3 linked regions of the Homo sapiens genome follow. The protein of the gene in region 2 purifies or fractionates together with the protein of the main gene of each other region. This does not show direct contact. Each region holds a gene or a part of one and is shown on either strand. Other genes may lie near its edges.

Region 1 (3,648 bases), on a different chromosome or scaffold from region 2:
AAAAAAAAAGTAAAAAAACAAATAAAAGGCCGGGCATGGTGGCTCATGCCTGTAATCCCAGCACTTTGGGAGGCCAAGGCGGGCGGATCACCTGAGGTCGGTTGTTGGAGACCAGCCTGGCCAACATGATGAAAACCCGTCTCTACTAAAAATACAAAAATTAGCCGGGCGCGATGGCAGGCGCCTGTAATCCCAGCTACTCGGGAAGCTGAGGCAGGAGAATCGCTTGAATCCAGGAGGTGGAGGTTGCAGTGAGATCAAGCCACTGCACTCCAGCCTGGGTGACAGAGCAAGACTCCATCTCAAAAAACAAACAAAAATAAATAAAAACTACCTCAAAAAGTGGGGAGAGGGGGCATCACCAGGCTGGTGTTCTGTGCGGTGTGGATTCTCATGGAAACGTTTAGATTGAGCCCTGCCTGCCGGGTTTTTCTTATGGCCTCAGGATTTATTCTGGAAGCAGAGACCTCAGAGGGCTGCACAGGCCCGTGCCAAGCCCCCTTCCTTCCTACCATCTGTATCCCAGGCACTCCTAGTCTATCTCTAGAACTGACCTCTCTCCTGAACTGTAGACTCCCCTCTCCATCTGCTCCCAGGCGCCATGGGTTGAGGTGGCTGACTCCACACTCCTGACCCTCCAAGCCTCACCCTCCTTGGCCTCCCTCTTCTCCCTTGGCCCCCTCATCAAAAATCAGCTCTGTGTTTTCTCTCCCCTATATCTCCCCTAACCTGCATCTGATCACTTCTTCGAACTCCACTGCCAACATTTTGGACCAAACCACCCACCCTTTGGTGCACGCTTGGCCCAGCTCTTCAGTCTCCAGGCTCCTGCCTTCCACTGATCCCCGCTTTCCCCAAATCTGTCCTCCTGCAGAAGCCACCAGAGGGCGCCTGTGTGCACCTGAATCCGGTCCCCTCCCTCCTATACTAGGAACCCTTCCGGGATCCCAGCTCAATAGCAGTAAAATCAAAGTTCTTCATGGGGTCCCCTTCGACTCCTCACTCCACCCCAGCTTACTGGGCTGTGCCAAAAATGTGTCCTCAGCCTGGATCAATCATCCCCAATCTTCCCCACCTCCTGCTTGTCACCCATCTCAGACTTTCCTGATCTCCTGTCTAAAGCAGCTTCCGCAGCCAGCCAGCATGGTGGCTCACACCTGTAATCCCAGTGGATCACCTGAGGTCAGGAGTTTGAGACCAGCCTGGCCAGCATGGTGAAACCCCCGTCTCTACTAAAAATACAAAAATCAGCTGGGTGTGGTAGCATGTGCCTGTAATCCCAGCTGCCCGGGAGGCTGAGGCATGAGAATTGCTTGAACCCGGGAGTCGGAAGTTGTGTGAGCCGAGATCACACCACTGTGCTCCAGCCTGGGCGACAGAGCTAGACTCTGTCTTGAAAAAAAACAAATCCCTCCCTCTGCTTTTGGGGGATATTGTTCCCCATTGTCACACAGTGTCAGGGCTGGGATTTAAACCTGGGTCTATGGGACTCTCTGCACAGCTACATTTTGGGGTAGCCTTGGCATTTGTACTTTTTCATTTTTATCTGTTTGTTTGTTTTAGATGGAGTTTTGCTCTTGTGGCCCAGGCTGGAGTGCAATGCCTCAATCTTGGCTCACTGCTACCTCCACCTCCTGGGTCCAAGTGATTCTCCTGTCTCAGCCTCCCAAGTAGCTGAGATTACAAGCATGCACCACCACGCCCAGCTAATTTTTTGTATTTAGCAGAGATGAGGTTTCACCATATTGGTCAGGCTGGTCTCAAACTCCTGACCCACACCCGCCTCGGCCTTCCAAAGTGCTGGGATTACAGACGTGAGTCACCGCACCCAGCAACTTCATGCTTTTCTTTATACCCAGAGGGGACCGACCACAGCCTGTCACAGATTGTGACACAGATTGTCACAAGCCTCTATGAGAGGCCACCAGGTCACCCTGAATCCTCTGTCACCATTCTGAGGGGCTGTCATGACTGAGACCAAAGGCAGCACTGACCAGGCCAGGACATACCACCAAGGGGCCTGCCTGCCTGTGGCCACAAGACAGCCTGACGTCACCACCTTCAATTAACACACCCCCTGGGATTTTTTCACAGCCAACTCTCGGCTCACTACTGAGTCCCTGTTCAGTGATTCTGGGCTTTTCCTAGCCCCCCCGCAGCTTAGAGACAGCAGGTCAACTTAGCCTCGTGGTGCCCCTTGAGCCCGCCCCGTTCTCCCGGTAGGACGGTCAGCAGAAAACCGGTTCCAAGAAAAAGAACCACTCACCGCGGAGACGGTAAACAGGGAGTTATCGAAGGACATGTCTGAAACAGAAAGAGAAAGAAAACCCAGGATTGGGGGCCAGTTGTAACTTCCCTGCTCCCTGCCATCCCCGCACTGCCCCCCAGCCCACAGGGAAGCAATTGGGGTCCATCTCCCAGCATCCTCTATGGCGCCTTTCCAACCCATTCTGCACGGTGAACTGTTCACAGCTACAAAGTGAACCAAGTCCTTCTACACACAGTCTTCCTAGGGGTATCTCTCACTGCCCTCAGGAAAATGGGTGTCTTATCTCAGGCCTTCCAGAAGGAGCACCTGCCAGCTCCTCCTCCTCCCCAGGCTCTCCTCCAATTGCTCCATCACCCATTTTTTTTTTCTTGTTTTTGAGAAGGAGTCTCACTCTGTTGCCCAGGCTGGAGTGCAATGACAGGATCTCGGCTCAATGCAACTTCCGCCTCCTGGGTTCAAGTGATTGTCCTGCCTCAGCCTCCTAATAGCTGGGATTACAGGCATGCACCACTACACCTAGCTAATTTTCATATTCTTAGTAGAGATAGGGATTCACCATGTTGGCCAGGTTGGTCTTGAACTCCTTGCCCCAAGAGATCTGCCTGCCTCGGCCTCCCAAAATGCTGGGATTACAGGTGTGAGCCACCACACCCGGCCTCCATTACCCATTCTTGTAGGTCTCTGCTTAAACATCACTTCTAGCCAGGTGAGGTGGCTCACGGCTGTAATCCCAACGCTTTGGAAGGCCAAGGAGGGAGGATCACTTGAGCCCAGGAGTTCAAGACCAGCCTGGGCAACATAATTTTTTGTCTCTAGAAAAAAAAATTTAAAAAGTAGCTGAGTGTGGTGGTGTATGCCTGTGGTCCCAGCTACTCAGGAGGCTGAGAGGGGAGGATCACTTCAGCCTAGGAGGTCGAGGCTGCAGTGAGCTATGATTGCGCCACTGCGTTCCTGTCTGGGTGACAGAGCAAGACTCTGTCTCAAAAAAAAAAAAAAAAAAAAACAGGCTGGGCGCGGTGGCTCATGCCTGTAATCCCAGCACTTTAGGAGGCTGAGGCGGGCAGATCACGAGGTCAGGAGATCGAGACCATCCTGGCTAACATGGTGAAATCCCATCTCTACTAAAAAAATACAAAAAATTAGCCGGGTGTGGTGGCGGGCGCCTGTAGTCCCAGCTACTCAGGAGGCTGAGGCAGGAGAATGGCTTGAACCCAGGAGGCAGAGCTTGCAGTGAGCCCAGATCGCGTCACCGCACTCCAGCCTGGGCGACAGAGTGAGACTCCGCCTCAAAACAAAAACAAACAAAAAACAACAACAACAAAAGGGCGGTGGCTCACGCCTGTAATTGCCTGTAATCTCAGCACTTTGGGAGGCTGAGG
Region 2 (3,903 bases):
TCAGTAATGAAGGGGAGACAGGGAACACAACCTAAATGGTTCTGGGAAAGGTGTCCTATAGAGAGAAGGCAGCAAGAGAAAGACGTTTCTAGTTTTGCCAGTTACGTCCTCTCGGTCACTATTGGTCATATAACGAGTATTTTAAAAAGGAAATGAATGGAATATGCTACATTTATAAGTGCTATTGCAGATATTTTAACACATTTCATTAAACTAGTAGGTGAAATCAAACATTATTCAAAAGTCTGGTAAAAAGTGGTAAAATTTGCTAGATTGATGAAAAGAATAGGATTTGGGCTGAGTTTAATAACTAGCTTTTCTGATCTGTAACCTTAATACACTGAATATAATTTTTAAAAATCCATAGCAAATCTCTGAAGTGAAGGCTGTGAAAAATCTACACAAAAGCACACATTTATCTAAGTGATACACAACTGGCCACTAGTAAATAGCAGATATATGTTCTCTTCCTTAAAAACGTTAAGACAATATAGAATAGACCATACTATTGTTTGTAAAAATGAATTTATTAAAATGCTCATAATTATAAAAGAATATTAAAATGCACAGAAATTAACATTAATAATTATAAAAGAATATTAAAATGCACAGAAATTAACATTAATTACAAACTTTACATCTTATGCCACAATGTGTGAAAAGCATCATGAATAGTTCTACTTCAGTTAAGCTGCTCATACATTTTTACCCTCTCAAACATAATATGAACATAAAATGGTACAAGAAGTGTTTCAACAAGAGTACATTCTGACCCCCATTGTGAATTAATGTTTTATGAAATTCAAGGCACACATGCAATAAAAAAGGGAAGACTTTGGTGACAGTTTATAAGATGGCCTTGTTTAGTTTTAAAATAAAAATGATAGCTTTCCCTTTCTAATGATATATAGCTAAATTATCTGAGGGATGTTTAATGAAAAATCCCCTGAGTATTTGCTCTAATGTTTCAATATGCTAAAATTCACAGGCATTAAAAAAGGATATAAAGCTCAGTTTCTCTAGTGGTTAACACTGGACAGGCTGAAGGCTAGATTCTCCCTCTTCACAGGTCCACTGCCACACCCATCAATTTCCCCAGGGCTGCTGCCTCTGAAGCCACTTACAGATGCAGCCACCATTGTCTGCAGACACAGCTCCATGCTTTTCTTTATCACTGCAAGTCAGCCGTGGACTCACTAACAAACACTGTGGATGGCATGGGGAAATGACCCTGCATCTCCACTACAACTTTGCTCTTTTGGGCATCTTAACAGTGTCAGATATTACATTTGGTGCCTTTCAATATGTAGAGGGTTTTTTTTCCCCTCCTGTCCACAGCAGCACATTTAATCTATGAAGAGGATTTTCTCTGCTGGGGCTATGAAAACAAATGCACATTTCTTTTAAGTTCTATCATACATACAGGAGATAAGGTAAAAACATTTCCTTTTCTATGCTGACATACATGGCGAGTAACTGCCAAATTTAAACACTAGGAGATAGTCACACACTTCAGAGAAGAGAAGAGGTACTAGAGAGGAAGTGACACCCGCTTCCAGAAGCAGTATCTCAGGAGTGAAGAGAGGAACAGTGGCACTCCCGTCTTGGCTGCGAATGAGAAAGAGTTTCCTTCAGTGGGAAGAAATTCATTTCTCCATCCCAGTGCAGTCAGACTTCATGGGGCCTGTCTTGAACTCTGATTGCATCATTAACACGATCAAGAGAGACAGTGAAATGGGGTCCCGGATCCACTGGGACAATTCAAAAGCCTACAATACTGCTTTGATGGATCCTACATAATTACTTACAAATCATTCATGGCAGGCATTTGAAATCAATCATGACCTAGAGTTACGCTACTTTATTGTAAAAAGCCTCTAAAATCTGAGTTTTCCTTTGCTGCTGGGATTCTGATAGGTTGGCTCCTCTGGTGTTTAACAGCATCCCAGTGAAGCCCATGCAGCATGACCATGATGCAAATCACCTCCCTCTTGTGCACCCAGCAATGACCTGTTACCAGTAGGGGTGAGAGGGCCTGGCTCCCTGTCTTTTCCAGAGCGCCCAGGAGGCCTGACACTTACAAGGCAATAAAGTGAAGTAGACTGCTAGGCTGAGCAAAAGTGAGGGGGCAAGACGTGCATGGCAAGACAGGAGTGCAGCAGGAAGTAATCTCCAGATAATGGTAGGGTTTGTGACCAAACCCTTTTCCTTTATTACTCTTAACTGCCTGATTGGCTCTAGAGGAGGCTAAAAAATCAAATCTAATCTGAGTCTCTTTACTTGATTATGAATAAGCTGGGTATACTCCTGTCTCTAGTACAATCAGACAGTTACATCAAATTACTGGGCCCAGAGTAACAGGATGGAGGATGCAAGGAAGCCACATTCTTTATGGCAGAGACTTTGGTGTGTTGATCACTTTGGCATACAGAAATAAGCCAATTCCTGCAGACTCCTTGACAAAAGGCACTCCCCACCCAATGACCACAATGAGGGCACTTGCTGTTTCTGCCCATGCACACAGTTGTACCCCAATGGCTGTGTAGTGAGCCATTCACAAAGGCAGCTGGTGATGTGTAATACTGCACCTTCTGTATCTAATGAATAAAAGTCAACTGGTAGAAAATTGAGGGGCTTATCTTTTCCAGACAATTATGTTGATAAAAATGTAATTTTAATCATGTGATATCACTGTTTTCCAAGAAACTACACATCTTTAGAAAAGATTAATTATCCAGATCAACATGAGTTAAAATGCTGTTTGAATCTGTAACTTTCCCTGCTTTTGTCATTTTATTCCCTTGAGATCTGCAAAGCAGTCAACATTGATTAGGCACGGAACCTCCTAGGAGTGCTCCTGGAAGATAAAAAGTGTCACTGTGGATTAGGACAAATATGCTTCAAAACCTTGCTATCTTCACTCCAACCTACTAAGAGTATTTTTTTGAGATGGAAAGACATGCTCAAATGAAGACTGAAACTATTTCCTCTGATTAACTGAGGTTTCCTTTCTGGAGGTATTGAAAATACACCTAAATATTGTGAATCCTTGAGTCTAGTTAGCTATTTTTAATCACATGAAAGCTATTAAATTAAATCTATAATGATGGTACTGTAAGGAAAAGATGACCCTGGAACAGATCTAGCCAAGTGAAGAAATGAAACATGGCTTAAAAATAAAGGAGATCATGCGCCTGAGAATAGACAGAAATGAAAATAATCAAACAGAAAAAAAAGAATCCATTCTACTTTAGAAGGGGTGGTTTTTAAGCACACTGAGGGACTTTTTCTGTAAAATTCCAATTTATCAGAAAAAGGTAACATTGAGGTTTTCCGGGTGATAAGTTTTATGCCCTTCATGATCTAAGTTTTACATTTTCCAGTTTCTGCATCGCTAGCTGAAACTGAAAAATAATACATGAGGAAATGGCAATAGTTGAGACTCATATTTGCCAAAGTGATTTAACTTACACATTCTCATTAGTGATTCCTAATATATTTTGACAAAGCTAAATTCCTTAAAGTGCTTCTCAGAACATAAAGCTCTTATTCTGATTTTGGCCGTAAATTGTTATCTACTGCTTCTATCATCCGCTCAGCTATCACCCCCATATTTTTCGTCATATCTTTGAGGTGATTCTCATGAAGAAGCTTTTGGGTTAGGTATTTTTCTCTCTGGATCTTGCTCTTTGTGCGTTTTGATACATCGGGAATTGCATATGAAATGAAAAATTTCACAGAGTAGATGACGTGCTGGGGAAGAGAAGAAGAAAAATGTCACTCACAAAGAAATGGAGGAGAACACCGAGTTCCTTTCATTCTTGCTTGTCATTATGGCAGTTTATCTGGACAAGGCAGTGGACATTTTACACACACAACCAACCGCTAATGCCATTGTGTCTA
Region 3 (3,648 bases), on a different chromosome or scaffold from region 2:
GCCCTCCTGTTGATTTCTCCTGGTCCTAACGTCAGGGGGGCCCTGACTGGCTTCCCTCTGTCCTGCAGATGAGGGGGCTACCCTTATGGGACCTGGGAGGCCGCCCTGATGTGGGACGGATGTCACCCGGTGGTCGCCCAGGCTCGTGCTGGGCCACACAACTGCGTTTCCACATTTCCTCCTTGGCTCCCCTATTCTCTTGGGCCGGGCGCAGTGGCTCACGCCTTAATCCCAGCACTTTGGGAGGCCGAGGCGGGCCCATCACGAGGTCAGGAGATCGAGACCATCCTGGCTAACATGGTGAAACCCTGTCTCTACTAAAAATACAAAAAATTAGCCAGGCGTGTTGGCGGGCGCCTGTAGTCCCAGCTATGGGAGGCTGAGGCAGGAGAATGGCGTGAACCCGGGAGGCGGAGCTTGCAGGGAGCAGAGATCAGGCCACTGCAGTCCAGCCTGGGCGACAGAGCGAGACTCCGTCTCAAAAAAAAAAAAAAAAAAAAAAGTGGATCCACTATACGGCTGAAACACATTTTGCACAAGATTATCTAAATGCTGGAGTTTAAATCGAGTCAATGACAACACGACTCCAATTCCAGGTATGGGGTTTAGTGGACAACCAGCTTGACGGAGTCAGGACCGCGCTGACCTGCCCGACACGGTGCTCGGGCATCTGGAAGGAGGAAGCCGGCGTCTCAGCCCCGCAGAAGCCCCGAACCGTGGGCCTCCCGCCGCGTCCGACAGGCAGGGGTGGGGCTAGATGACCGAGGTCTCCGTTTGCAGGAAGGACTGGGCGCGGGAGCCGCGGTGGAACTGCAGGGCGCCCTCCGAGCCGTTGCGGGAGAAGGAGGAACCGCAGACCCTGTAATCCCGGCTCGCGGACGGGGTCGGGCACCGGCTTCGCCATTTTCGCTTCAGCTCGCACTGCACCTGGGAGGTGAGGGCAGCGGGAACGCCCGTGAGCCTGGGCAGGTGCGGGCGGCTGCTATGGGAAGCGCGGCCCGCGAGCCTCCAGCTCTCCCTCCCGCCTGCTCCCGTATCTGTGTTGCCAGCAGATGGACAGAAACAGAAACGGCCTTGGGGGCAGAGGCTGGAGGGAGCGGGAACTGGACGGCCACAGGAGGGCGGGGGACGCTGCCAGACTCTAAGACTGTGCGTGGGTGGTTCGGGGATCGCCACTGCCGCGGTAAGCGCAGTCCCACAGTCTCAGATAGTTAATATTTCTCTGAAAAGATTTTCCTTAGCAGCCGGGGTTGTGACGGTGCTGGGCCTCCGTCTCCTTCCCTGTTCCCAGCGGGCAGGGAATGTTAGCCCTGGGAGGGGGTGGGGATGAGTGAGGGGTGCCCGGACGGCAGAGGAGGGAGGAGGACAAGTGGCACTACTCGGGCTCAGCTTTGCAGAAGCCGTGCTGGTGAAAGCTGCATGTCAAGCAAAGAAAGCGCCAGCAACCGCAGCGTGGGGCGGGAGGGTCAGGGGTCAGGGGACGGGGCCAGGCCGTTGGAGCAGCCCGGAGACAGCCTCCCTGGCTGGGAATGAACGCAGGGCAGAGCTCGGCTCCGGGCTTCCTCCCCAGGGACTCACAGGACGCTGTGCAGCCCCACCCCCCAACCCAGGCCCGGCTTTCTGGGACTCACAAGCTATGGTCAGGAGCGAGACGCCGACCATGGGGAAAAACAGATTCTGTCTAGACCCGGCCGGGAGCTTTCCCGAGAGGGCTCCGAGACGGACGGCAGTCGATGCTACTTAGGGTGGACGGAAGGACGGCGGGGTTTGGAAGCTGGGCCCAGAAGAGTGGGTTTGCCTGTGTCGTTGTGGGTTCTCTGATGGGGACACAGAACTGTGGGGTCCCGGGCAGTAACTCGAGCCCGCGGAAGACAGGCATGTGTGGGGGCTGCGGCACCAGGCTGGGCAGCATCTCAGGAAGCAAGTGAGTACCTGTGCTTGGTTCCAAGGCGGCCATGAACTTACCTCACTGTTCAGGAAACAGTAGAGGACGGCCACCACCAGGCCCTGCAATGAGAAGAGATGGTCAGGCAGGACCCGCGCTCGGGGGAGGGCGGCCGCCTCCGCACACCTACCTGGAACGACCCGAGGCACAGCTCAAACAGTATCTGGTATTTGGAGGAGATGCTGATGGGAAACACGGCAAACACCATGTAGTGGACGCCGAACAGCGGGATAAGCAGGAGCGTGGACTTGGCCAGCCTCCTGCACAGAAGGAGATGAGCCAGCTCAGCTGCTGGACCCTCGGACCCTCTGCAAGCCTGGCTGGGTCCTTCTCAGGAGGGGGCAGCTGGGTGTGGGAGGGGCTCCACACCTCCTCTCCACTGCTGGAGTCCCCGCCCAACAAGAAAAACCACTGTTTCTTTACGTTTATGTCTGAGGCCCCTGTGCATATCTAGCACTCAGGGCCTGGGAACGTGCATTCCGGAAGTGTCCGTTTCTCCCAAATTCCCTCACAAGGACACACGCTGTGTCCTGGGGTTCATGGCTGGCAGGGGCAAGATTCCCTGTGAGTGACCCCAAACCTACACAGGCCCCGCCTGGGAGCCCGGCCCATCCTGAGGCAGGCATGGGACAAGAAGGCTGGCCTCCACCGCTGCCACACGCAGGTTTAAATGATGAGAACCGATCCTGCTCCCGGACCTGCAGCTCGTAACAGCTGGGCTCCGTGGGAGCCAGGTCCCTCAGTCAGCGGCAGAGGACCTGCCTGATTCCCTCTATTAACGCATCTGAAGTTTGCTGGAAAAGAGGCCTATCTGCGGCTGAGCTCTTGGCCCCTATCCAGGGAGGTTTTGCTACTTCTGTGACCAGAGTTACACAGAAAGGACCTCGTGTGGCCTCAAGGGTGTCTCGGCCTTTTCTGTTGTCCTGGAAAGGGAACAGATTTTGTTTCCAAATAAAAGCATCCATCTCCAAGTTCAATTTAACAAACACTCCCAAAGAACCAATGCAAAGGTCAGCATAGAAACTAAACAAGATTCACAGGAAATCCAAGTTCAACCTGAAAGGCAACCAAGAACGATCTTATTCGGGGGTCTCTGCCACACAGGCACCACCGGACTCCCCTGAGCAGGGACAAGGTCATGCTGCCATGCGGGGTCTGACATGGAATCCCATCCCTCGTGTGGGCAAGCAGAGACGGGATACTCCCTGGATTTAGACACTACACAGCAGAATTAGATTCTCTGGTTTACCAGACTCTTTTGCAATACTCTGGTGCCAGGCAGCAAATATCCGGCAAATATAGACTGCATTGATCCTCCTGACCTTAGTGACATTATTACTTCCATGTTACAGATGGGGAAGCTGAGGCATGGAGTGGCAAAGTGACTTCCCTCAGGGCACTGGCCGGTATCTGCACCCAGCTTTGGGGCTGTTGGCCATGCTCCTGTCTAACCGCCCCTCCCCAAATCCATCCCTGTTTTCTAAGGTGGGAGAAAAGGGAAATGCAGGCCAGGCACCCTCCTAGGCTGGGCGGCAGGGTTCCTGCCATGGTACAGCTCTGTGCACAGCCGCCCTTCCACCCCCGGTCAGTCTGAGCCCGAGGCACCTTCTGGGCTGGGCCAACCACTTCCACACCAAGCCAGTGTTTAGTTTATACTTGAATTTTGGTTTTTACCTTTTTAAAAAAAAATAAATTCTTGATAT

The links.
Region 1: the proteins of ANO6 (region 2) and C19orf38 purify together in Homo sapiens (co-immunoprecipitation; one large-scale study listed by IntAct). This does not show direct contact.
Region 3: the proteins of ANO6 (region 2) and VIPR2 purify together in Homo sapiens (co-immunoprecipitation; one large-scale study listed by IntAct). This does not show direct contact.

What each region holds. Positions count from the first base shown.
Region 1 is NC_000019.10:10,861,826-10,865,473, reverse strand, and holds part of C19orf38 (protein HIDE1 precursor), read right to left. Parts: intron 2,305-3,648; coding exon 2,267-2,304; intron 1-2,266.
Region 2 is NC_000012.12:45,428,955-45,432,857, reverse strand, and holds the end of ANO6 (anoctamin-6), read right to left. Parts: intron 3,754-3,903; coding exon 3,547-3,753; 3' UTR 509-3,546; downstream 1-508. UniProt on the Homo sapiens protein: Small-conductance calcium-activated nonselective cation (SCAN) channel which acts as a regulator of phospholipid scrambling in platelets and osteoblasts.
Region 3 is NC_000007.14:159,029,863-159,033,510, forward strand, and holds part of VIPR2 (vasoactive intestinal polypeptide receptor 2 isoform 1 precursor), read right to left. Parts: intron 2,206-3,648; coding exon 2,076-2,205; intron 2,008-2,075; coding exon 1,966-2,007; exon of another isoform or gene 1,632-1,965; intron 928-1,631; coding exon 754-927; 3' UTR 1-753. UniProt on the Homo sapiens protein: G protein-coupled receptor activated by the neuropeptides vasoactive intestinal peptide (VIP) and pituitary adenylate cyclase-activating polypeptide (ADCYAP1/PACAP).